Homo sapiens: one gene and its partners. The protein of the gene in region 3 interacts with the protein of the main gene of each other region in a pairwise test. Each region holds a gene or a part of one and is shown on either strand. Other genes may lie near its edges. The genes, in order: HPRT1, CDA, SDCBP, CUTC, NT5C2, ZSCAN23 and ZCCHC10.

What was found.
Region 1: the proteins of SDCBP (region 3) and HPRT1 interact in binary tests that used the Homo sapiens proteins (3 or more experiments, as listed by UniProt).
Region 2: the proteins of SDCBP (region 3) and CDA interact in binary tests that used the Homo sapiens proteins (3 or more experiments, as listed by UniProt).
Region 4: the proteins of SDCBP (region 3) and CUTC interact in binary tests that used the Homo sapiens proteins (3 or more experiments, as listed by UniProt).
Region 5: the proteins of SDCBP (region 3) and NT5C2 interact in binary tests that used the Homo sapiens proteins (3 or more experiments, as listed by UniProt).
Region 6: the proteins of SDCBP (region 3) and ZSCAN23 interact in binary tests that used the Homo sapiens proteins (3 or more experiments, as listed by UniProt).
Region 7: the proteins of SDCBP (region 3) and ZCCHC10 interact in binary tests that used the Homo sapiens proteins (3 or more experiments, as listed by UniProt).

Annotation. Positions count from the first base shown.
Region 1 is NC_000023.11:134,466,665-134,470,164, reverse strand, and holds part of HPRT1 (hypoxanthine-guanine phosphoribosyltransferase), read right to left. Parts: intron 1-3,500. UniProt on the Homo sapiens protein: Converts guanine to guanosine monophosphate, and hypoxanthine to inosine monophosphate. Transfers the 5-phosphoribosyl group from 5-phosphoribosylpyrophosphate onto the purine.
Region 2 is NC_000001.11:20,595,597-20,599,096, reverse strand, and holds part of CDA (cytidine deaminase), read right to left. Parts: intron 1-3,500. UniProt on the Homo sapiens protein: This enzyme scavenges exogenous and endogenous cytidine and 2'-deoxycytidine for UMP synthesis.
Region 3 is NC_000008.11:58,570,261-58,573,760, reverse strand, and holds part of SDCBP (syntenin-1), read right to left. Parts: intron 2,875-3,500; coding exon 2,796-2,874; intron 1,557-2,795; coding exon 1,447-1,556; intron 1-1,446. UniProt on the Homo sapiens protein: Multifunctional adapter protein involved in diverse array of functions including trafficking of transmembrane proteins, neuro and immunomodulation, exosome biogenesis, and tumorigenesis.
Region 4 is NC_000010.11:99,742,234-99,745,733, reverse strand, and holds part of CUTC (copper homeostasis protein cutC homolog), read right to left. Parts: intron 2,582-3,500; coding exon 2,372-2,581; intron 1,698-2,371; coding exon 1,662-1,697; intron 1-1,661. UniProt on the Homo sapiens protein: May play a role in copper homeostasis. Can bind one Cu(1+) per subunit.
Region 5 is NC_000010.11:103,102,773-103,106,272, forward strand, and holds part of NT5C2 (cytosolic purine 5'-nucleotidase), read right to left. Parts: intron 3,030-3,500; coding exon 2,934-3,029; intron 2,610-2,933; coding exon of another isoform or gene 2,586-2,609; intron 1-2,585. UniProt on the Homo sapiens protein: Broad specificity cytosolic 5'-nucleotidase that catalyzes the dephosphorylation of 6-hydroxypurine nucleoside 5'-monophosphates.
Region 6 is NC_000006.12:28,436,992-28,440,491, reverse strand, and holds part of ZSCAN23 (zinc finger and SCAN domain-containing protein 23), read left to right. Parts: exon of another isoform or gene 1-417; intron 418-3,500. UniProt on the Homo sapiens protein: May be involved in transcriptional regulation.
Region 7 is NC_000005.10:132,996,485-132,999,517, reverse strand, and holds the end of ZCCHC10 (zinc finger CCHC domain-containing protein 10), read left to right. Parts: intron 1-667; coding exon 668-935; 3' UTR 936-2,533; downstream 2,534-3,033.

The DNA of each region.
Region 1 (3,500 bases), on a different chromosome or scaffold from region 3:
AGGCAGAAGTCAATATTGATTTGTTTTTAAAGAAACATGTACTACTTTCATAAGCAGAAAAAATTTCTATTCTTGGGGGAAAAGATTATGCCAGATCCTCTAGGATTAAATGCTGATGCATCTGCTAAACCTTCACATATCAGAACATATTTACTATAGAAAGAATGAAAATGGGACATTTGTGTGTCACCTATGTGAACATTCCAAAAATATTTTACAACAACTAAGTATTTTATAAATTTTATGAACTGAAATTTAGTTCAAGTTCTAGGAAAATACAAACCTTGCTAGATATTATAAAAATGATACAATATATATTCATTTCAGGCTCATCAGAATATATCTGTTATCACTTGACAAGAATGAAAATGCACCATTTTGTAGTGCTTTAAAATCAGGAAGATCCAGAGTACTAAAAATGACTTCTTCCTTGAAGCTTACTCACCAACTTCCTCCCAGTTACTCACTGCTTCTGCCACAAGCATAAACTAGGACCCAGCCAGAACTCCTTGAAATATACACTTGCAACGATTACTGCATCTATCAAAATGGTTCAGTGCCTGGCTACAGGTTCTGCAGATCGACTAAGAATTTGAAAAGTCTTGTTTATTTCAAAGGAAGCCCATGTGAATTCTGCCCAGAGTTCATCCCAGATATGCAGTCTAAGAATACAGACAGATCAGCAGAGATGTATTCTAAAACAGGAATTCTGGCAATATAACAAATTGATTTCCAATCAAAACAGATTTACATACCATACTTATGTCAAGAAGTTGTTTTGTTTTATTGCATCCTAGATTTTATTTTTTTGATTTATGGTTTACTTTAAGCATAAAAAATTTGTCAATACAACTCTTCCCAAAAGGCATAAACAAAAATTCATAAAACTTGCATCACTTGAGATACTTCAGGTATGAATTCACAACTTTGTTACAACTTACTATATATATGCACACATATATATATATTTGGGTATATTGGGGGGGTTCTAATTTAAGAAATGCATAATTGGCTATAGACAGACAGTTGTCAGAACTTGGCAATGGGTACGTGCAGGTTCATTATACCAAGTCTACTTGTAGTTGTTCAAAATGTATCATAATACAAGGCCGGGCGAGGTGGCTCACGCCTGTAATCCCAGCATTTTGGGAGGCTAAGGCAGGAGGATTGCTTGAGGTCAGGAGTTTGTGACCAGCCTGGGCAACAGAGCAAGACCCTGTCTCCAAAAAGAAAAAAAATAATTTTTTACAAAATAAAAACAAAATGTATCATCAGACGAAATTAAATAAGAGGCAATTCATTTAAATGACAACTTTTCCCAGCTTGACATTTAACAAAAAGTCTAAGTCCTCTTAATTCATATTTAATGATCAAATATCAAATACTAATTTTTTTTTTTTTTTTTTTTTTGAGACGGAGTCTCGCTCTGTCGCCCAGGCTGGAGTGCAGTGGCGCGATCCTGGCTCACTGCAAGCTCCGCCTCCCGGGTTCACGCCATTCTCCTGCCTCAGCCTCCCGAGTAGCTGGGATTACAGACATGCGCCACCACGCCCGGCTAATTTTGTATTTTTAGTAGAGATGGGGTTTCTCCATGTTGGTCAGGCTGGTCTTGAATTTCCCACCTCAGGTGATCTGCCTGCCTCAGCCTCACAAAGCAGTAGCTGGGACTACAGGCACCCACCACCACACTTGGTTAATTCTTTTGTATTTTTTTTGTAAAGACGGGATTTCACCATGTTAGCCAGGATGGTCTCGATCTCCTGATCTCATGATCCGCCCGCCTCAGCCTCCCAAAGTGCTGGGATTACAGGCGTGAGCCACCCCGCCCGGCCATCAAATACTAATTCTTAAATGGTAAGGACCCACTATTCAGAACCTGTATCCTTATCACTAATATGCAAATATTTATTGAATACTTACTATGTCATGCATACTAGAGAGAGTTAGATAAATTTGATACAGCTACCCTCACAGAACTTACAGTGTAATAGATGGCATGACATGTACATGAGTAACTGTGAACAGTGTTAAATTGCTATTTAAAAAAAAAGACGGCTGGGCGCTGTGGCTCATGCCTGTAATCCCAGCACTTTGGGAGGCCAAGGCAAGTTGATCGCTCGAGGTCAAGAGTTCGAGACCAGCCTGGCCAACGTGGTAAAACCCCGTCTCTACTAAAAATACAAAAAAAAAATTAGCCAGGCATGGTGGCACAGGCCTGTAATCCCAGCTACTAGGGAGGCTGAGACATGGAGAACTGCTTGAATCCAGGAGGCAGAGGTTACAGTGAGCCGAGATCATACCACTACACTCCAGCCTGAGTGACAGAGCGAGACTCCGTCTAAAAAAAAAAAAAAAAAAAAAGATACAGGTTAAGTGTTATGGTAGTTGAAGAGAGAACTCAAACTCTGTCTCAGAAGCCTCACTTGCATGTGGACCACTGATATGAAATAATATAAATAGGTATAATTCAATAAATAGGAACTTCAGTTTTAATCATCCCAAACACCAAAACTTCCTATCAAACAGGTCCAATAAACTCAATCTCTATAAGAGCTAGACAGAAATCTACTTGGTGGCCTATAATCTTATTAGCCCTTACTTGTCCCATCTGATATTAATTAACCCCATCTAATATGGATTAGTTAACAATCCAGTGGCTGCTTTGACAGGAACAGTTGGAGAGAGTTGGGGATTGCAACATATTCAATTATACAAAAATGCATTCAGCATCTACCTTGATTAAGGCAGTGTGCAACAGAATTTGCAGGAGAGTAAAAGAATGATTATAAATTTACAACCCTTAAAGAGCTTATAGCTGGGCGTGGTGGCTCATGCCTGTAAATCCCAGCACTTTGGGAGGCTGAGGCGGGTGGATCACCTGAGGCCAGAAGTTCAAGACCAGCCTAGCCAACATGGCGAAACCCTGTCTCTACAAAAAATACAAAAATTAGCCGGGTGTGGTGGCACGTGCCTGTAGTCCCAGTTACTTGGGAGGCCGAGGCAGGAGAATCGCTTGAACCTAGGAGGTGGAGGCTGCAGTGAGCCGAGATTGTGCCACTGCACTCCACTTCAGCCTGGGCGACAAGAGCAAGACTCCGTCACAAAAAAAAAAAAAAAAAAAAAGCTTAAAATCTAGTGGGAAAGGCATATATACATACAACTAACTGTATAGCATAATAAAGCTCATAATCTGTAACAAAATCTAATTCGACAAGCCCAGAAACTTGTGATTTACCAAAAACAGTTATATATACACAAAAAGTAAACCTAGAACCCAAAGTTACCCAGCACCAATGATTCTCTCCCTAAGCAGTATCAAGTTTAAAGCAGTGATTACATTCTACTGCCTAGATTGTAAACTGAGTAAAGGAGACCAGCACCTTTCTGCTACTGAACTAGCACAGCCGTGTAAACCAACAAGGCAATGGCAGTGCCCAACTTTCTGTATGAATATAAGTTACATCTGTTTTATTATTTGTGACTTGGTGTTGCATGTGGTT
Region 2 (3,500 bases), on a different chromosome or scaffold from region 3:
CACCTTCTCAGAGACGCTTTCTCCGATCACCTATCTAAAATGGCTTCCTCCCACTACTGCCTCCAACTCTCTGTATCCATTTCTCCTGCTTTAATTTTCTTCATAGCACTTAACAGTCTCCTGAAATAAATGTCTTTATTATCTAATTCCTCCTATTATATTACAAACTTTCTGAGGGCAGAGATTTTGTCTCTAACATGTGTTGTGGTATGTCCTGGGCCTGGAACAGTGAAGTCATGGGGCTCTCAGTTTCTCTTATGGATTGAATGTTTGTGTCTCCCTAAAATTCTTCTGTTGAAGTCCTAACCCTCAACGCTATACTATTAGGAGGTGGGGCATTTGTGAGATAACCAGGTTTAGATTAGGTCGTGAGGGGGCAGCCCCCATGATGGGATTAGTGCTATTATAAGAAGAAGAAGAGACTCTTAAACTCTCTCTCTCCATCCTGTCAGGGCATAGTGAGAAAATGGCCAAGTCAGAAAGAGGGCCCTCGCCAAGAACTGAATCTTGGACTTCCCAGCCTCCAGAACTGTGAGAAATAAATGTCTGCTGTTTAAACCACTAGTCTATGGTATTTTGTTATAGCAGCCTGTTTTAGTCCGTTTTGTGCTGCTGTAACGTAATATCCCAGACTAGGTAATTTATAAAGGACAGAAATTTATTTGTCATAATTCTGAAGGCTTGGAAGTCCAAGGTCAAGCTGTTGGCAAGTTGGTGTCTAGTGAGGACCCAGTCTCAGCTTCCAAGATGGCGCCTTGAACATTGCATCCTCTGGAGGGGAGGAACACTATTCCTCATGTGGCAGGAGAGTGAAAGAGAGAGAATCCATACTGTAAGCCCTTTTTATAGCGGTATTCATCCACTCACCGGGCAGAGCCCTCATGACCTAAACACCTCTTATTAGGTCCCACCTCCCAACACTGTTGCATTGGCAATTAAACATAGCGAGACCCTGTCTCTAAAAGTGTATATAAATAATAAATTTGAAAAGAGAAGCCCTCCAAAGTACGCTTATGCATTTTGGAGGGGGCAAACCTTCAAACCACAGCATGGCCTGAGCTAAGATGGCTAACCATTATTGAAAGAGTGGAATTTTCCACTTCAGTTCTAGATGCTTAAGACGCAGAGGAATAACTGTATTTGGAGCCTGTAACAAATTCAAGTAATTTCCTTGAATTTTCTAGCTCAAAAAAAAAAAAAAAGGCAAATAAAAAAAAAGGAAGGAAGCCTTTGCCCACGTACTGCATCCTGAAATGCTGTGCAATTTTGTTTTGCTTCTCTCAGCCCAGAAAGCAGGCTGTCTTCTGACCAGGCAAACCAATTCTGTTTCTGCTATTGCCTTTGCTTACTTCAAAACATACATGAGAGAGATTGGGATGGTGCTAAGTTAGAAATCCATAATAATAAGATAGGACCAAATAATACTACGATCATAGTGCCAGTATTACTAATTGCTTTCTTTTACTGGGCACTCATAGGCCAGGCACTCTGTGGAGTGCTTTACCTGCATAAGGTCAGTTAATCCTTTTAACTGTTGGGTAAGGTAAATACTGTTAGAACACCATTTTACAGAAGGTAAAAGTGAAGGCTGGTGGCAGGAGGCCAAAACATGCATCCTGGCCTGTGAGATACGATGGACTCTTCTTTTTTCTTTTTGAGACGGAGTCTCGCTCTGTCGCCCAGCCTGGAGTGCAGTGTCACGATCCTGGCTCACTGCAAGCTCCGCCTCCCAGGTTCACGCCATTCTCCTGCCTCAGCCTCCCAAGTAGCTGTGATTGCATACCACACCCGGCTAATTTTTTTTGTATTTTTATTAGAGATGGGGTTTCACCATGTTAGCCAGGATGGTCTTGATCTTCTGACCTCATGATCCACCTGCCTTGGCCTCCCAAAGTGCTGGGATTACAGATGTGAGCCACGGCGCCCGGCCAGACTCTTCTTATTCTCTATGGCCTTGCAGGAAGGAAGGCCATGTTTTGAGGTGGTTTGGTGCTTAAGGCAGGGCTGCGGTCAGATGTTATTAAGACATCAGCAAGACTGAGTGTGGTGGCTCACGCCTGTAATCCCAGTACTTTTAGAGGCTGAGGTGGGTGCATTGTTTGAGTCCAGGAGTTCGAGACTAGCCTGGGCAACATGTCAAAACCCAGTCTCTACAAAAAATTTTAAAAATTAGCTAGGCATGGTGGTGCATGCCTGTGATCTCAGCTACTTGGGAGGCTAAGGTGGGAGGATCGCCTGAGCCAGGAAGGTCGAGGCTGCAGTGAGCTGAGATTGTGCCAGTGAACTCCAGACTGGGCAACAGAGTGAGATCCTGTCTCAAAAAAAAAAAAAAAAAAAAAAGACATCAACAGGGAAAGAAGCTCACAATGAGGCTATTTGGGCCCAGCCACCCAGAGAAAAGAATAATGCCAGAAAGCACTGCACCCACTCTCTTTTCTGAGGGATCCTAGCAAGATTAAAGCAGTATTCTCACACTCAAGCAAGTGGGCATCAGAATGTTTTGGAGGGCTTCTCTTTTTAAATTTATTTATTTTTATATTTTTTAGAGACAGGGTCTTGTTATTAGTTGCCCAGCTGGAATTTGAACTCCTGGACTCAAGCAATCCTCCTGCCTTTGCCTCCTGAGTAGAGGGCTTCTTAAAACACACTTGTAAGCCTCTTTCCTGGAGTTTCTGATTCAATAGGTCTGGGCTGGGTTGGAGCTCAAAAATTTCAAATTTTCACAAGTTCCCAGGAGCTGCTGAGGCTGCAGTTCTGGGACCACGTTTGAGAATCACGTGAGGAATGTTCTGTCCATATACTTGAAGAAATACGACACTCTCTCCATGTTCCTAACCTCCTCCCACTGCAAATGCACCATTTCAGGTATGAATTATATTCGAACTCAGCTATTTAGTCGAGGGACTGTAGTAAAGCTTGCCTATGTAATGAGACAATTTTTTTTTTCGAGATGGAGTTTCACTCTTGTTACCCAGGCTGGAGTGCAATGGTGCGATCTCAGCTCACTGCAACCTCCGCCTCCCAGGTTCAAGCGATTCTCCTGCCTCAGCCTCCTGAGCAGCTGGGATTACAGGCGCCTGCCACCACGCCTGGCTAATTTTTGTATTTTTAATAGAGACGAGGTTTCACCATATTGGCCAGGCTGGTCTTGAACTCCTGACCTCAGGTGATCCACCCACCTCAGCCTCCCAAAGTGCTGAGTGAGATTACAGGTATGAGCCACCGTGCCTGGCCTTTTTTTTTTTTTTTTTTTTGAGAGAGTCTTGCTCTGTTGCCCGGGCTGGGCTGGAGTGCAGTGGCGTGCTCACGGCTCATTGCAATCTCCACCACCGGGGCTCAGGCCATCCTTCTGCCTCAGCCTCCCGAGTAGCTGGGACTCTAGGCATGTGCCACCACGCCTGGCTAATTTCTGTATTTTTTGTAGAGATGGGGTTTCACCCTGTTGCCTAGGCTGGTCACAAAATGAGCCACTTTTGAGTGACAGTGGAGAGGACTAACTG
Region 3 (3,500 bases):
AACTGTGCAAATTATAATTTCGTTTGTCAGTGACTGGAATGACAAGCACCTCATTCCTTCCTGTGTGCCTCCTGCTCCTGTCAGTACTGTGTAAGCCTGGCCCTTTACACTGGCAGCAGCAGTTGGTTCCAGTCTGCAACTTTTACTGACACTCCCAGAACCAGCCTCATTACAACCCCTCAGAGGCACTAGTAGTGTCCCCTCATCCAAGGTCTGAGTCCCAGCTCCGTGGGGCTCTTCCTCAAGCTTCTAGGTTCTGCTAACTCCAATCTCTCTCCTGTGTTATCCCAGTCCTAGGAGAAGCAGCTAGCTATCTGCAATTACATCTATGTCCATTTATGTTTTTTTCAATTTTTCAACCTCTTAAAATACCTACTATTATTTGTTTTCCCAACTGCATCACCACTAACACAAGCAAGTTTTCAATAAATATTTGGTAAATACATAAATGCCAGGTACTGTATATGCATTGGGATATGGCAACAAGACAGACACAGATTTAACTACAATTATAATAAGTGGTACAAAGTGCTATGGTCATAGCAATAACCTTAATAAAAGGTTATCAGACCCATTATAATTAAGCTAGACTCTGGAGTCTAATTACATGGAGCTTTGAATTTCAAAAAGAATGTTAAAAGATTAAGAGCAAAGGCCAGGCACAGTGGCTCATGCCTGTAATCCCAGCACTCTGGGAGGTCGAGGCAGGTGGATCACCTGAGGTCAGGTGTTCGAGACCAGCGTGGCCAACATGGTGAAACCCGGTCTCTACTAAAAATACAAAAAATTAGCCAGGCATGGTGGCGCGCGCTTGTAGTCTCAGCTACTTGGGAGGCTGAGGCAGGAGAATTGCTTGAACCCAAGAGGCGGAGGTTGCAGTGGGCCGAGATCACGCCATTGCACTCCAGCCTGGGTGACAAAGTGAGACTATGCCTCAAAAAAAAAAAAAAAAAAAAAAAAGATTATGAGCAACAAAGATATGATAGACCTATATGTGTATTTCAGAATGATTAACTTAGCAGCGGCTTAGTACTGTCTGAAATAAGTTACTAGAGGAAATTTAAGAGAGTACTATAATAATGAAGGCTAGAAGTATAGAAACCCTGAATATGGTTATAGTAGGACTAGAATGGATAAAAAACAGATAAAATGAATACAAGAAACAGAAACAGAATCAATAGGACTTAGTAACTGACTAAATGCAGAAGACAAAGGAGAACGAACTAGTAAAAGGTATCTGAATCTAAGTCCTAATAAACTCAAAACAGTGTAGCACAAAATGAAGTAGACTATATAAGAAATGATATCCAAAAGGAAGTCTAAAATTTCTGAGAAGTGAGGTTCAATGCTAGTAGTATATCTGTGAGTTAGCCACAAAGAGGAAAGCTTATACTAACATGTAAAGTATGATTTTATATAAATCAAAATTAATTACACTATACATACCCCCTGAAGTGGTGCACCAGAAACCACGGCCACATTTGCACGTATTTCTTCTTCATTTAAACTCAGCCCCATGTATTGAGAGAGCTCTGGATACAGTCTGGGATAGAGATCTAAAAAGTAAATGAATAAATTAAAAAGCACTTACAGAATACACAAAATGAAAACTTCTCTCATTATGGGCTTCTGCGTATTAACAAAATTACACTTAAGTTATAAAATCTAGAATGAATTTAAAGTAGCAATTTGGAAAGGCATCTCCCCATCTCTGTAATAATGAGAAATGGAAAATACAGAAAATGTTTAAAATTCGTAAAATATGAAGACATCTGAACTGAAACAACCAGAGATTCCTAAACACTCAAAAGTAGAAATAACTTTTCCAAATAAACTATCTTGCCTTTCCTGTTTCTTAAAATAAACTTACTTGATTAGGAATTTAGTAAGAATGCCACTGATTCTCCAATTCAGAACAACTGACCAAAATATCTATTTGTCAAGTCAGCTACTTTATAACTCATTCTGTAAACAGGGATATGGAATGATTCTTATGAACAATTTTTTTTGGAAGCTTGTAAATTTATTTAGTGTCTTATCATTTTAATAATTTTAACCACATTCCAATGAAATCCTGGAAATGGTATTTTTAAATATTAACATTATTTCACTTATTAGTAGTTATATACTATTTCCAAAAGCTCTTTTTTACATGAGACTTAAATTATCTGTGACTTAAAATGAATTTTCTATGAGGCACAATGTTATAAACTGTTGTAAGACAAAATGACAGGCCACAAAAACTTATTTAACACTTATTTTGTATCTTAAGTCATAGTATTTAGGAGCTCTGTCCTGAATCCCTCTGAACCTTGAAGAAAAAGGGACCAAAGACAGGATACAGAGAATGAATAAAGGCCTTAAGATTTAGGAGGCTTCCCAAAGAGGAGGTGGTTGGAAATTTCAGAAGCTCCCATAGGAAAGACAGAAGACAATTCAGAAAGTTCAACAGCAGCAGCATGATAGTTCTTAAATGTGAATTCATATAGTTCTCATATGTGAATTCATATATATAATTCATTCATAAATGAATCAGCCACGTTAGGGATTTACAAGTCAGTCTAAAATTAATTTTCATTAAGCCATGAAATACATCCCCATATCCACAGTTCACTATCTTAATTAGAAAAAGGGTTATTTTTTGAAGTAAACTTTTTTTTCTTATTCATAACTATTTGAGCTTAACTACCAATTTTATGCAGCCTGTCCAAAAAAAAATCTTGGATTCCTTATATGAGCAAAAGAAGATAACAATATTTCTGTTCACAGAGAATGAACTCAAAGTATAAACCTACTTCCATCGTGAGGGATAGGAGCAGAAGCTTCTGACAAAATTGCTGGATTGGCAGGGTTTGCAGAAAAAGCAGTTTGAGCCTGAAAAAGAAAAGAAGAAAATTCTAACAATATGCTATACTTACTTTATATTCTTATATAATTTATAAGCTAAATCCAGTACTTCCAAAAAGAAACTAAAACAATGAAGATTTATGTAAGAAAGTTTAATTTCAAACACATCAGCAATACATTTTCCAAAGGAAATCTGCAAATCAAAACTATATTTGATATTCTAAATACTTTTAAGGCTATCACAAAAAAATTGTAGAAGTACCATTCTACATGTCTTATAACCAGCACTTCATAGTGCTGCCACAATAAATTAATATTTTCAAAGTGCATTCTAAAATGAATAAATTTTACATTTTCATTATTCTTTTACTAATTAGTCCAAGTAAAAATATTTTATTTGCATAAGAAAAAACCTTACCCATATTCATATAAAAGTCACATATCAGAAAAACACCTAAAAAATTAATACTAAGCATGTCCCACTGAAATCATCTTTATCTTCATTGCAGCAAGTATAGGAAGGGGTTTATGCTAAATACTTTTAAAATATCAGAAATTATGAAAATAGCACAGTTTATCACTGACATAAATCGATGATGACAAGGTAATGTAATTTGTAACTGTTAAACAAACTTGCCAAAATCACTCTGACA
Region 4 (3,500 bases), on a different chromosome or scaffold from region 3:
AGGCATGCGCCACCACGCCCAGCTAATTTTTGTATTTTTAGTACAGACGGGGTTTCACCATGTTGGCCAGGATGGTCTCAATCTCCTAACCTTGTGATCCACCCACCTCGGTCTCCCAAAGTGGTAGGATTATAGGGGTAAGCCACTGTGCCCAGCCCCATCCTACTTTCTAAGAGATTTCTCCCCTCCTCAGAGCCCTCAAAGAGTAAAGTGGTATCAGGAAACTGAAAACAGAAAATCTACTTCTGCTTTGGTTCTCATACTGCTACATGACATTGAAGCTCTAGCCTGCAGTGGATTAGGTGGTAGTGGTCCTCTGGGACAGGCCCCTTCATTTCACCCTTTAGTGTATGTAGGCAACTAAATCTACCACAGAGGATTTCCCTATTTTGGTGGCAGCACCTTCTCACCACTAAAACTATATTATGATATCTCATTAAATACATTAGTGAGAAAAATGTGGAACCCAAAAATTCTACAAATTTTGAAAATATGAAAATATTTTTGTTAAACCTATTGGAATAAAGAACAGAACAGAAATTTGAAGTAAAAAAATTTTTTTTGACTGTAGACTTCTTTTCATGTGCAATGGCAGTGCTCTCTGAAGGCAAAATAGATACTTGTTCTTCCATTTTACCAAGGTGTAGCCTAAGAGTATAGAAATTATAACTACCTGATTTTTTGGCCAGGGGTGGTGGCTCACGCCTGTAATCCCAGCACTTTGGGAGACCAAGGCGGGTGGATCACGAGGTCAGGAGTTAAAGACCAGCCTGGCCAAGATGGTGAAACCCTGTTTCTACTAAAAATCCAAAAATTAGCTGGGCATGGTGGCAGGCGCCTGTAATCCCAGCTACTCGGGAGGCTGAGGCAGAGAACTGCTTGAACCCGGGAGGCAGAGGTTGTAGTGAGCCGGATCGTGCGACTGCACTCCAGCCTAGGCGACAGAGCGAGACTCCGTCTCAAACAAACAAACAAAAAAAATTATATCTACCTGATTTTTTACAGGAAATATTTCTTTACAAGAAAGTATCACATTAAAAAATCACTGTGGTGCAGACAAGCTATAATGAAAAATAATTTTGTATACTATTGTGGACATCTGTTCATTGACTAGATAGTCAACACTAGATTGCATCTGTTTCTCCTTTCTCCCTTCCTAATAAGACCCAATTCTTCTCCAGATACCCAACTTTCTCTCCCCTTAAGAAGTCTCTATCTGTGAAACCCCACCTCACTGCTAGCCCCAGGGATGGTTTTGCCTGGCTTAAGATAGACAGTACCTTTCATTTCACCAGCCACAACAATTTATTCTTTTGGGGTTGCACATGACCTAATACAGTCTCAGTTAAAATGAGTCTCAGGATTCTTGCTTGGAATGCTATGATAGGTACACACACTTGAAGGCAATACTTGCTCTCTCCCTCGCTCTCTTATATCCCACCACCACCTACACCCACTTTTAACAACTTTTCATAACTAAGGCTTCAAATTTTCTAGAAATTGCACATCTCTACTTTTATAACTTTTAGTCCTAGGATCTAAAAAACCAATTGGTAACCTTGGAACACTACAGAATTGTGTTCCATAAAAAGGTGGTGGCAGTTGTTGAAATTAGAAAACTAACACTGTTCAATAGAACTTTTAAAATGAAAATGACTCACCTCGGTGGAAAGTGACTGGCAGAGGGCGGCAAATAGCTATAAAAAGAAAGTCATATAACAACATGAATGAAGATGTCATCACTGATTACTATATATAGAATTCTCCATGTTAGCTGAAACTTTTTAATACTTTCTTCGCCTAACAAGACAGTAAACTGACATAATAATAAAATGGCAGCCTTACAAATTCAAAAGTCTTATCTTTCCACAAATCTCTGATTTTTATACAAAAAAATGGTCGTGGCTTATCACCAAATGAAAACCATTTAATCTGACAACTATAAGGGCAGCATTACATCTAATACTTGTCCCTCTGAGGTCATTCAATAAGTACTTTGGTTTAGTAACATAGGTAGTTTGCTTCTGTCCTCTTTGCATCTTCCAACTTGGTGGTCCATCCTCACCAACTATAATACTTTTGAAGTTCTTGGTGCAGTGGTTAAAGGAACCATGGTAAATTTCCCTTAAATTTCTATTCTATGGGAACAGTAGCGGAGCCTAATCTATAGCAATTGAGGAGAGTTAAGAAGGCTTTGCCACACATACACCCCACCCCAAACATCTAAATAACTACTATTTGAAATACTTAGGTTAGTATAAGTGTCTGTAGCTATGACCGCAAAGTCAGTTTTGTGATGTTGTTTTTCTATATTGTGAGCATAAATACAATTATCATTAGAGGCTTTTACGTCTTAGATACAAATTCTTACCCATAAGGGACATACACAGCTCTTTGTCAATGTGTCCATCTTCAGTCAATGCCCCAAAAACCAAACCATCAGCACCATAAAGCTTGGCAAGACGAATGTCAGCCTTCATCACCTCAATTTCACGATCTGAATACAAAAAATCACCTCCCCGTGGCCGAATCATCACAAAAACTGGGATCTGAACACTCTGCTTCACTACTTGAAGGACACCTACAAGAAAAGAAAGCAGATTAAAATTCAAATGTGAGCTAAAAGCCAATGATATATTATTGGTCATTTACCAGACAAAGATGGCTCTAAAAGGTAGGACAGACACTGAGAAGAAAAATGTATATATGGTAGAAGGTAAGTAATAGCAAAGGGTTAAATAGAACGATTTAGAAAACAGAAGATGCTACAATTTAAAAGCACTTGTCAGTTGACTCAACAAAAATCCTTATGACTCAGAACCCTTTTATTGGTAGGTGACATTTGAAAGTGCAATAACTACCAGGCTCGATGTTCTGCCAGTACATTATTCCCCAAGATCCAATTTCTTCTTTCTAATTCATTACAGCTCTATTTAAAACCTACTGGAGAGATGGTTAAATAGCTTCAAAGTTCATATTCCTTTAATGGGCAAAGACATTTAGCAAAACCTTTTTTTTTTTTTTTTAAACAAGATACGTGAAAGGGAGCAAAGTTCTACTTATTTGTGATTTTATGCAGAGATCTATGCATAAAAGTACCTAAATATGCCATAATAAGTGGCTAGCTCATAAACCATCAATAGTATAAGGCTGTGACAGGCCCCATCAGTTGTTTACCCAGTATGAATTTCTTTCTTTTTTCTTGCTAAAAGAACTCCAATTTTGCATAGGATAGCAGTTGTCCAATACTAAGCAATGAATCATAATTGGTGTTACAAAAACAGACTGTACTCAAATTTACAGACATGCTCTAGGGATTTTAGAATGGCCAGGAATGCCCTCTTTTCATGTGAAGATTCCAAAGGGCTGTTGTGTATACAAACTTTTTACATTAAATAATGCTATTATCAACCTCAGAGTAGCATAACTTAGGAGACCACAATTCATACACAGACTTCTGCTTTTGGCCAAGACAGGGTAACAGTGACTGGATTTACCCT
Region 5 (3,500 bases), on a different chromosome or scaffold from region 3:
AGTAGTTCTATTTTAGTGATACTAAGTTTGAAGTAAACTGATTTTTATTAGGCAATTAGAAACAAAGGTCAAGAACTTAAAAGAGATTCAGCCTTGAGAGATAACTGAGATCATCTACGTACAGATACTAGATGGAATCATGAAAAGTATTAGAGGAGATGAAACCACTTAGTGTGCAGAGAAGGAAGAGAAGAGACAGAACAGAACCATGAAGAAAATTCAAGGTTTAAAAGAAAAAAGCCAGTGAAGCAGAATTTGTTAAAGATGCAAAAACACTTCTAGAAGAAAACATTTCAGAGAAACTCAAAGGGAAAAATACTAAAATATAAAAATGCACAGTTCTGACAGTGAATACATGGAGATTAACAATGTAAATAAAGGAAATCAAATTTAAAGCTCACACTCAGAGTGACCTGGATTAATTCCTGCCTGGGTTTGTTAACTACAAATGGCATAAACTCTAGTTAGACATATAAAAATCACATTAGCTCCCTGTCTTAAGTCACTCTTCTGAGATGAGAGTTCCCAATAATGAATAACTTTGTAGAGTATCTTATCTTCTAGCTTTCCAAGATTTTCTTTAATAAAAGTAAGGTGGAAGGTAACAGTAAAAATATACTTTCTTCAGTTAGATTTAATAAGCTGACACTGTCTCCTTAGATACAATATACTTCCCTATTCCCTCCATCATTAAAGAAAAATTCCTTTACATAAAGATGGTTAACATTTATTAGGCAGTTAGAACCCAAATTGATTTATAAATATAGTTAGCAATTACATTGTAAACTTCAGTGTCAAATCACACTAGTATATATTTAAAATAAAAATCAATTTGGGGGAGGTAATATATCATAAAAGAAATGCTACACTTGGAATGGGAAGAAAACAGTTACAGCACAGATTACTACTAACTTTCTGTGACCCACAGAATAAAAATTTATCAAAAAATAAGGTCCTAACTCATTAGCAAAGCCTGATGGAGTCCTTCTTTTCCAGCCTTGTCTACCACTGTAATAGCTTCGATAACTTTCTTTCCCTCTATCTTCAGTCTCTTCTTTTCATGGGAATTTTAATTTTATTAATTTATTTTTATTTTTTTGAGATAGGGTCTTGCTCTGTTACACAGGCTGTACTACAGTGGCACCAACACAGCTCACTGCAGCCTCAACCTCCTGGGCTCAAGCACTCCTCCTGCCTCAGTCTCCCATATAGCTGGGACCAAAGGCATGTACCACCATGCCCAGCTAATTTTTGATATTTGTAGAGATAGGGTTTCACTTTATTGTCCAGGCTGGTCTCCTAGGCTCAAGAAGTCTTCTTGCCTTGTCCTCCCAAAGTGCTGAGATTATAGGCGTAAGCCACTGTGCCTGGCCAGCTTTTCTGTTTAACTCTAAAGACTGCACAGTGCTAAGTGCTATTTGAATGATTCTGCATTTACTCATAAATGACTTATTTTTGAAACACTATTAAATGCATTAGCAAAGGAGCTATGTGGAAACTTTATTGGCTTATTTAAGGGAAGAGAGGAAGTCTGTGGATCTTGAGTTGGAAATTTGATCGTAGTACTAACTTATCCAACTGCTTCTCTTTTCTTCTCTGCCTACCCCTCCCTTATAATACAAAAATTCCTTTTTAGACATAATAGAACCCTGGTTCATCTTCATTGAGATTCTGAGTTATGATGACAATATCTGTGTATAAAATAGCTTAAGTTACTAGTACAACCTGTAATTACTTCATATTCTAAATCCTGTTTCCTGATATTTTCATGGATCCTGAACAAACCCCCTCATGAAAGAAACAGTGAAAGAAATGTGGATGTAATCACTGGCCTGCTCAGATGTGTCAAGATGGGTGTTTACTTCACACCGTTCTCATGTATACATGGAAATCTCTGAGCCTGTGTAATGTCAGTAATGCCAACTAAAGAGTCTTAGATGCTTCAATTCTAAGGGGCATCCTGTGACCTCAAATCTAAAGGAAGCTCTGGTACAATTACAGTTGGTTTGTGCCTCTTATCACAAAAAAAGACATTGTCTTTTTAAACATTTCAATGTAGCCTGGTGTTTTTCCTATTCTGCCATCAAGAATGAATAGTAAATGGAAAAGTTACATAAGAGACTGACACACATCCTATTCTGGTTTTACGAGCTGTTGTTCTGACCTTAATACAATGTCAATAGTAAATAAGGTGGCATAACAGTAGAGAAAATGTATAACAGTAAAGCTATAGCTACAGAAGTTGTCAAATTGTGGCATTATGATTTGAAAATATCGGGACATTTCACAAAAAAATAGTAGATACTAAATTTCATCTGCTGTTTACTAGGGTAAAAAGTTCAAATTAGTGACAATAGTGGAAATATTTTTATTTTGAAAATAAAGCTTATTCTTATTTGTTTAAAATATTATTAGCACATATTCACTTTAACCTTATGTTTACATTTTTTTAATGACACAATCAAATGTCAGGATTCAAAGTTTAGATTCATTAGAATCTAAAAAACGTATTGGCTATTAAAAATCTCTTAATCATTTAAATTGCTATAGTTTAAAATTTTTTCAAAGCATTTTTATATACATACCTCTTCTGAACAGCTACCTGAGAACTGTATTAGAAAGAAGAAAATAAAAATCTTAGAATTTCAAATAAGTCAAAACTACTAAAGTTCTTCTGGGCAAGTTTTAAGATTAGTTTTGTTGTATGCTGTATAATTGGAAGGCACTTAATTTAAACAAAATGTAATTGCTAACTATATGTCAGTTTGGGTTCCAACTGCCTAATAAATAACTGTTAACTAACCTTATGTAAGGGAATTTGCTCTTTAATGATGAAAAGTAATAGGGAAATATATTACATCTGGGGAGATGATGTCATCTTCACATTGTTTGACTTTAACATTAGAAAGAGGCTAAAGGTTCTCTGTACTCACCCCCTTATAAAGTTAAATCCATGTGCACAGACCAAGAGGTTTCCATAGGCATCGACTTTCAAAAGATTTCCATACAGTGTGTCAAAGACAAGTCCCCTATGTGAAAATGAAGACATTATTGATAATGCAAAGTAATACAGGCAATAATTTTATGTAGTAGTATTTAATCATCATGAACCAACCTCATTTAATTCAAGCTTTGTACCAACTCAAAGTATGTCCTAATATAGCTAAAGTGAGTAAAATCTTAAAAACTAATTCTAAAGCAACTAAAAAATATTGACTCCGTCCAGACAGAAAATCATAATTGTTTTCTGTAAGGAATAAGTGCTTAATCAAACAAGGTATAAAAAACATTCTTCTTACTACACAGCTGGTACCATTCTAAAACATAGTCTTTTTTCTTGGACAACTGAGAAGGCTTATATTTTTCTCCATTAGATGCTGTATGTGGGATATATATGATAGCATCTCAAACATCATTTTCTTAATCTTAAATATTCCCTATCAAATCCAGAAATGGAAACTGCCAAGCTTCTATCATGTTAAGTGTATTAGAGAAACACG
Region 6 (3,500 bases), on a different chromosome or scaffold from region 3:
ATTCAGCAGATCATGTTTCAAGCCATGATGATCTCTTCCCTGGATGATTATCATAGCATCCCTCTCTGCCTCCACTTAACCCCAAGGTCATTGACACAGCGGCTAGAGTTATGCTTTTGTGTTAAATGGAAGTAAAATTTTGTTACCCCTTGGCTCAAAAATCCCCAGTGGTTTCCATATCTCATAGAATACAAGTTAGAGCCCTTACCACTGCCTTTCATGATCAGTTCCCAAGCTCCCTGCTTTATCTCCTGTTACTTTCCCTTTTGTTTTCTTTGTTCCAGCCATTGTTCAACTAGCTATTACCTGAAGAATCCAGGTGTGTTCCCACCTGCAAAAATTTGCACTTGGCAGTTACCTTTGCATGGAACAGTCTTTCTCCAGATAGCCATGTGACTTGCTCCTCACTTCCTTCAGGTCTGTTCAACCATTACCTTATCAAGGCCTTCCCTGACTCTATAAAATAGCAACCTTTCTTTCCCCTTACTCTCTCTCTCCTTACCTTTATTTTCTCTATAGCATTTATCACTACTTCACAAATACTTAATTATTATCTGTTTCCTCTGACCCGTTTTCCTCATCCTGGCCCCTCTTTTCCCCAACAGAAGTTAGTGTTGTAGCAGTGGAGACTGTAAATTCTGATGTCAGATTTGTTGGGTTTGAATTGCAGCTTCACTGCTTACTATCTGTAACTGACTTGAACTTTGGACTAGTAACTTAAACTTTTCATATCTCAGTTTTCTCATCTGTGATATGGGGGTAATAATAGCACCTTATTCATGGTTGTTTTGAGGATTAAATGGGTTAATATATATAAAGCATCTGTAACAATACCTGGCACGTTAAAAGCACTATAAATGTCCGCTATTATTAATACTGTTATTAGGATGTAAATTCCATGAGACTAGGGACTTCGTTATAATTGCAGCTGTATCCCCAGTGCCTAGAACAGTACATGGAATATGGTAGGCTCTGAATATATATTTGCTGGTAGGCTCTGAATAAATATCTGCCAAGTGAATGAATGGTGTATGAAAAGTTATGACAGAAAAAGATAGTATGGTAGTCACAGTGGTGGTGAGTCGCACCAAGAAAAGTGGAGGAAGGCTGGGCGTGGTGGCTCACACCTGTAATCCCAGCAGTTTGGGAGGCTGAGGCAGGCAGATCACGAGGTCAGGAGTTCGAAACCAGCCTGGCCAACATGGTGAAACCCTGTCTCTACCAAAAAAATACAAAAATTAGCTAGGCATGGTAGCGGGTGCCTGTAATCCCAGCTACTCAGGAGGCTGAGGGGAGAATCATTTGAACCTGGGAAGCAGTGAGCTGAGATCGTGCTGTTGCACTCCAGCCTGGGCGACAGGGTGAGATTCCGTCTCAAAAAAAAAAAAAGTGGGGGAAAACATGAATTTGCAGATTCTGTCTTTAGAGGAAAAAAATCCTCTGTACATTTCCTGGGGTAGTGATTACAGAAGGTAACCAAACCAAAGATGTCAGAACTTTATGGAGAGGATTATGTGTGCAGGTTATCCGGAAGGATGCTGTCCCATGCCAGTAGTTTGTTTCCCCTTTGATAAATATAACCAATAATCACAATATGAATCTAATTTTTCTTCGGGTTGTAATGTGATCAGTGTTCACTTGTAATTTAAATACCTGATATGGTTTGGCTGTGTCCCCATCCAAATCTCATCTTGAATTATAGTTCCCAATTTCTCATAATCCCCATGTGTCGTGGGAGGGACCCGGTAGGAGACAATTTAATTATGGGGGCAGGTACCTTCATGCTATTCTGGTGACAGTGCGTTCTCATGAGATCTGACGGTTTTATAAGGGGCTTTTCCCCCTTTTGCTCGGCACTTCTCCTGCTGCTGCATGTGAAGAAGGACATGTTTGCTTCCCCTTCCACCATGATTGTAAGTTTCCTGAGGCCTCCCCAGCCATGCTGAACTGTGGGTCAATTAAACCTCTTTCCTTTATAAATTACCCAGTCTTGGGTATGTCTTTAGTAGCAGCTTGAGAACAGACTAATAAAATACCCTATTCTTAGTTATTTAATTTCACAATGCATGTCAACACCTTAAGAATAGTGTAGGGTTGCTGGGCGCGGTGGCTAATGCCTGTAATCCCAGCACATTGGGAGGCCAAGGCGGGTGGATCATCTGCGGTCAGGAGTTCGAGACCAGCCTGGCCAACATGGTACAACCCTGTCTCTACTAAAAATACAAAAATTAGCCTGGCATGGTAGTGGGTGCCTGTAATACCAGCTACTCAGGAGGCTGAGGCAGGAGAATTGCTTGAACCCAGGAGGCGGAGGTTGCAGTGAGCTGAGATTGTGCCACTGTACTCCAGCCTGGGCAACAGAGCAAGACTCCTTCTCAAAAAAACAAAAACAAAAACAAAAAACAACAAACAGAATAGAGTAGGGTTATTTTTGCAATGGATTACAACAATTTTACTTAAAACAAAAATATTTTATTCTACAGGTTATTATTCATTTGTGGGTCATAAAATCTATGTGGTGTGTCACAACCCACCACATAGATTTTATAACCCACAAAATCTGTTCCCAGGCTTTTTTGTTTTGTCTTTTAATGAAATAGGTTTAAAAATAATTGTATGTCACTATATAGAGCAAGGATACATAGTGTTTTGTGAAATTATTATTTTAGGTATTTGTGTATCTCATAAATGCACAAACATATATACATATGCATGTGTGTTCTGGGTTATAATATAAAATATTTCTTAATAAGAGTCCTGGTCAAAAAAGTTTGAAAGTCTCTACTCGAAGATGGTGCTTAGAAATCACTGGGTCATATAATTGTTTTTCTTTCAGAAAATTTTCTTCATTAATTACTATCCTGGTAAAGATTGCTCATAAGTTTGTTTGTTTTTGTTTTTGTTTTTTTGAGACAGAGTCTTGCTCTGTCGCCCAGGCTAGAGTGCAGTAGTGTGATCTCAGTCCACTGCAACCTCTGCCTCCCGGGTTCAAGCGATTCTCCAGCCTCAGCCTCCTGAGTAGCTGGGATAACAGGCGTGTGCCACCAAGCCCAGCTAATTTTTGTATTTTTTAGCAGAGACGGGGTTTCATCATGTTGGCCAGGCTATTCTCGAACTCCTGACCTCAGGAGTCATAGACATTTGTCTTTTTATTAGCAGTAATTTTATTTTACATAAAATTGCCTACTCTCCACCTTCAAGTAGCTTCAAAGAGAAAAAGTTTCAAAGAAATTAAAGGGCAAGAGAAAGGTCAAATTCTACTCCTGTTTTAAAGTACTGGAACCAATATTTCCGTCATTTTAGTATCTCTGAGCCTAGACCACTGCAGTCAACTACTTTCTGATTCTTTTGCCTTAGCCTTAAACCACTAGGATATTCATTTAATCATACAATAACATAAGAAAAATAAGTGTTACCACTTTGGAGTTTACTAAGTAGCCAACTTCTTTGTGCTCATTATCCTCGTTTTATCTTTGTATCAACCTAGAAAGATAGGCAGT
Region 7 (3,033 bases), on a different chromosome or scaffold from region 3:
AGTAGTTAAAATAAAGATGATGAAACAGTCACCAGCTAAGCTACGTGAGGTTTAAATAGACCCAATTGTTATACTGCAGCTTTATTCTGACATTATTCCCTCTGAAATGTAATATAGTAGATATGCTTATCTTGAATTCCATCCAAGAGAATTAAGTTGCTGAAGTAACAATGCCTTGTAAAGAGAGGGACTGTGGTTTACAACAGGCAATCTCCAAAATATCAAACCTAAGGATAACATGCTAGCAAAGCTTCAATATATAAGCATATATATGGAATCATATGAAATCGCTTTTGGCTGGGCGCGGTGGCTCACGCCTGTAATCCTAGCACTTTGGGAGGCTGAGGCGGGCAGATCATGAGGTCAGGAGTTCGAGACCAGCCTGGCCAACATGGTGAACATGATGAAACCCCGTCTCTACTAAAAATACAAAAATCATCTGGGCGTCGGTGTGCGCACCTGTAATCCTGGCTACTTGGAAGGCTGAGGCAAGAGAATTTCTTGAACCTGGGAGGCAGAGGTTGCAGTGAGCTGAGATTGTGCCACTGCACTCCACACTGGGCAACAGAGCAAGACTCTGTCTCGAAAAGAAAAAAAAAATGAAATTGCTTTTAACATTCTATTACATGTCACCTTCCCATGTATATAACTCTGTATTGTCTAATAGGTCTAAGAGTGTAACCAGTTCCAGTAGCAGTAGCAGTGACAGTTCTGCCAGTGATTCTTCATCAGAGAGTGAAGAAACATCTACCTCTTCCTCCTCAGAGGACAGTGACACTGATGAAAGCTCCTCTAGTTCCTCATCCTCAGCCTCCTCCACAACCTCTTCCTCCTCCTCTGATTCAGACTCAGATTCCAGCTCTTCCAGTAGCAGTAGCACCAGCACAGATAGCAGCTCTGACGATGAACCACCAAAGAAGAAGAAAAAGAAATAGAGTTGCTCCATTCATATTGGACTGATGGACTGAAAACATTGATGTGATTCTTGAAAGGGAATTTAGAATATGTTAAGGCCAAGTAGGTTAACTGGTGAACATTTCTAGAATTCAAAAGTTTCTAAATGTTTTACATTGTAAGAGCATAGAGAATATTAATAATGGCTTATAGAGAGAGACTTTTATTTGAAGGGTGAATCTTGTTTTTTTTATCTTTAAAATATATCTCTAGAACTTAAAGCTGAAATCTGCAAATCTGTTTGTGTGATGAAACTATCTTTTCTCTCTGTGAAATAAATGCCATACTTTGTTATATATGTTAGTGGTATGTATCAGACATATTTTCAGGATGGTGCGTCAGGATATCTGGCAGTGGATTTCTAATGCTTTTGGCTGTATGTTATGTAAGATTTAATATGTTGTTACTGTAAGCTTAGGAGTTTTCCTACTATTAATAAATGTGCTCTATTTTTACATTTATGTTCAGAAAGTTATCTGACTTTTTGTCCTAAGTGGTATGTTCAAGGAGCCTATTAATATATTTATAGTTTTTGAATGCTGTAAGTTTCAAATTGCTGTGTTACGTCATTCATTTTCTTCTGGTTCCTTAAGTTTTTCAAGTTATCCTTTTCTGAGGAAAATTATTCTAGAGGAACCTAAAAAGGGACAAAAAAATTGAAACTTCTTAGGAGTCTAATCTTGGTGCCTTCTGTTAAAAGTCAGTGTATCAGAAAAGAAAGCAGCCATGTAAGAGGCTAACTTAAATAGAAGTGCTAGAAATATCTTTGTGTATTAACATGCAATAAAAGGTACCATTCAAAGCAGGGGGAAAGGTAGGAAGAAGAGGTAATTTTTACTGAAAATTAGGGCAATGTTGGTCGCCTTTTATTAAAAGCTTTTTTTAAGCTTTCATAAAGATTGCTTTTTGCTATTTTTGAAAATATGGTATTATAGTTTGTATGGTAACTGGTCATATATGACAGTCTACTGCATATATATGAATGACTAGGATTAATCTGGTGTGTTTACATAGGATATACATAGTTGAAATCTAGCATGAAAGGTTAAAAAGGAGATACTGCACAATATTTCTTAAAAGTAAAATGCTGTTATTGTGATGAGTCTTTGGTTTAACATCACAGTATTCTGTGATGTCTTTTTAACTTTTTGGAAAGAGGTATCATTTGTAGAAAAAATTTGATTTGGGTTAAATATAGGTTTTTAAAACTATAAATGTTGTCTTTTTTATATTTTTATGAAAAAGCAGTAGAAAATTACTTTTGAAGAAAACAGGCTATTTAAATATTGAAATATATGTATGTTGTGAGTTTAAGGAGCCTGTAATTGTCAGTTTTACAAAACCATCTGTGTTCAATGGTTGTAAATAAATTCTCAAAACATCATTTCAAAGGCTGCCTACAGAATATTATCACTTGACAGATAGAGTTAATAAATTACCAATCAGGCACATTTTATAATGTTTGTCTCTGTAAAGGTAATATTAGCAGTTAAAGAACACGGATGAGAAAAGAATGTGTTACATAGGTTGCATCACTTGCAGTTAAATAAAACTCACAATTTGTGCTCACAAGCTTAAACTTCTGTTATCTCTTTAGTGTTTTATTTAATGTCAGTTATTCCATTTGAGGTGTAAAGACATTTGAACAAATTCCAATTTTAAAGTTTTACTATTATGGCTGTTAAAAGTATGACTGCAGAGGTACAGAGAGCAGGAACTCAGTTCTTCTAGTCACACATTTCATTCAAAATGACAGAATCAGGCTGGTCACAGTGGCTCATGCCTGTAATCCCAACATTTTGGGAAGCCAAGACGGGAGAATCACTTGAGTCCAGGAATATGAGACCAGCCTAGACAACATAGTAAGACTCTGTCTCTACAAAAAATTAAAAAATTAGCTGGGCATGGTGATGTGCCCCTATAGTCCCAGCTACTCAGGAGGCTGTGGCAAGAGAATAGATTGAGCCCAGGAGGTTGAGGCTGCACTGAGCCATGAGTGTGCCACTGCACTACAGCCTGGGTGACAGAGTGAGAAAAAACAAAAAACAGAATCAATGGCAAAGTGGAGACTAACTTCTA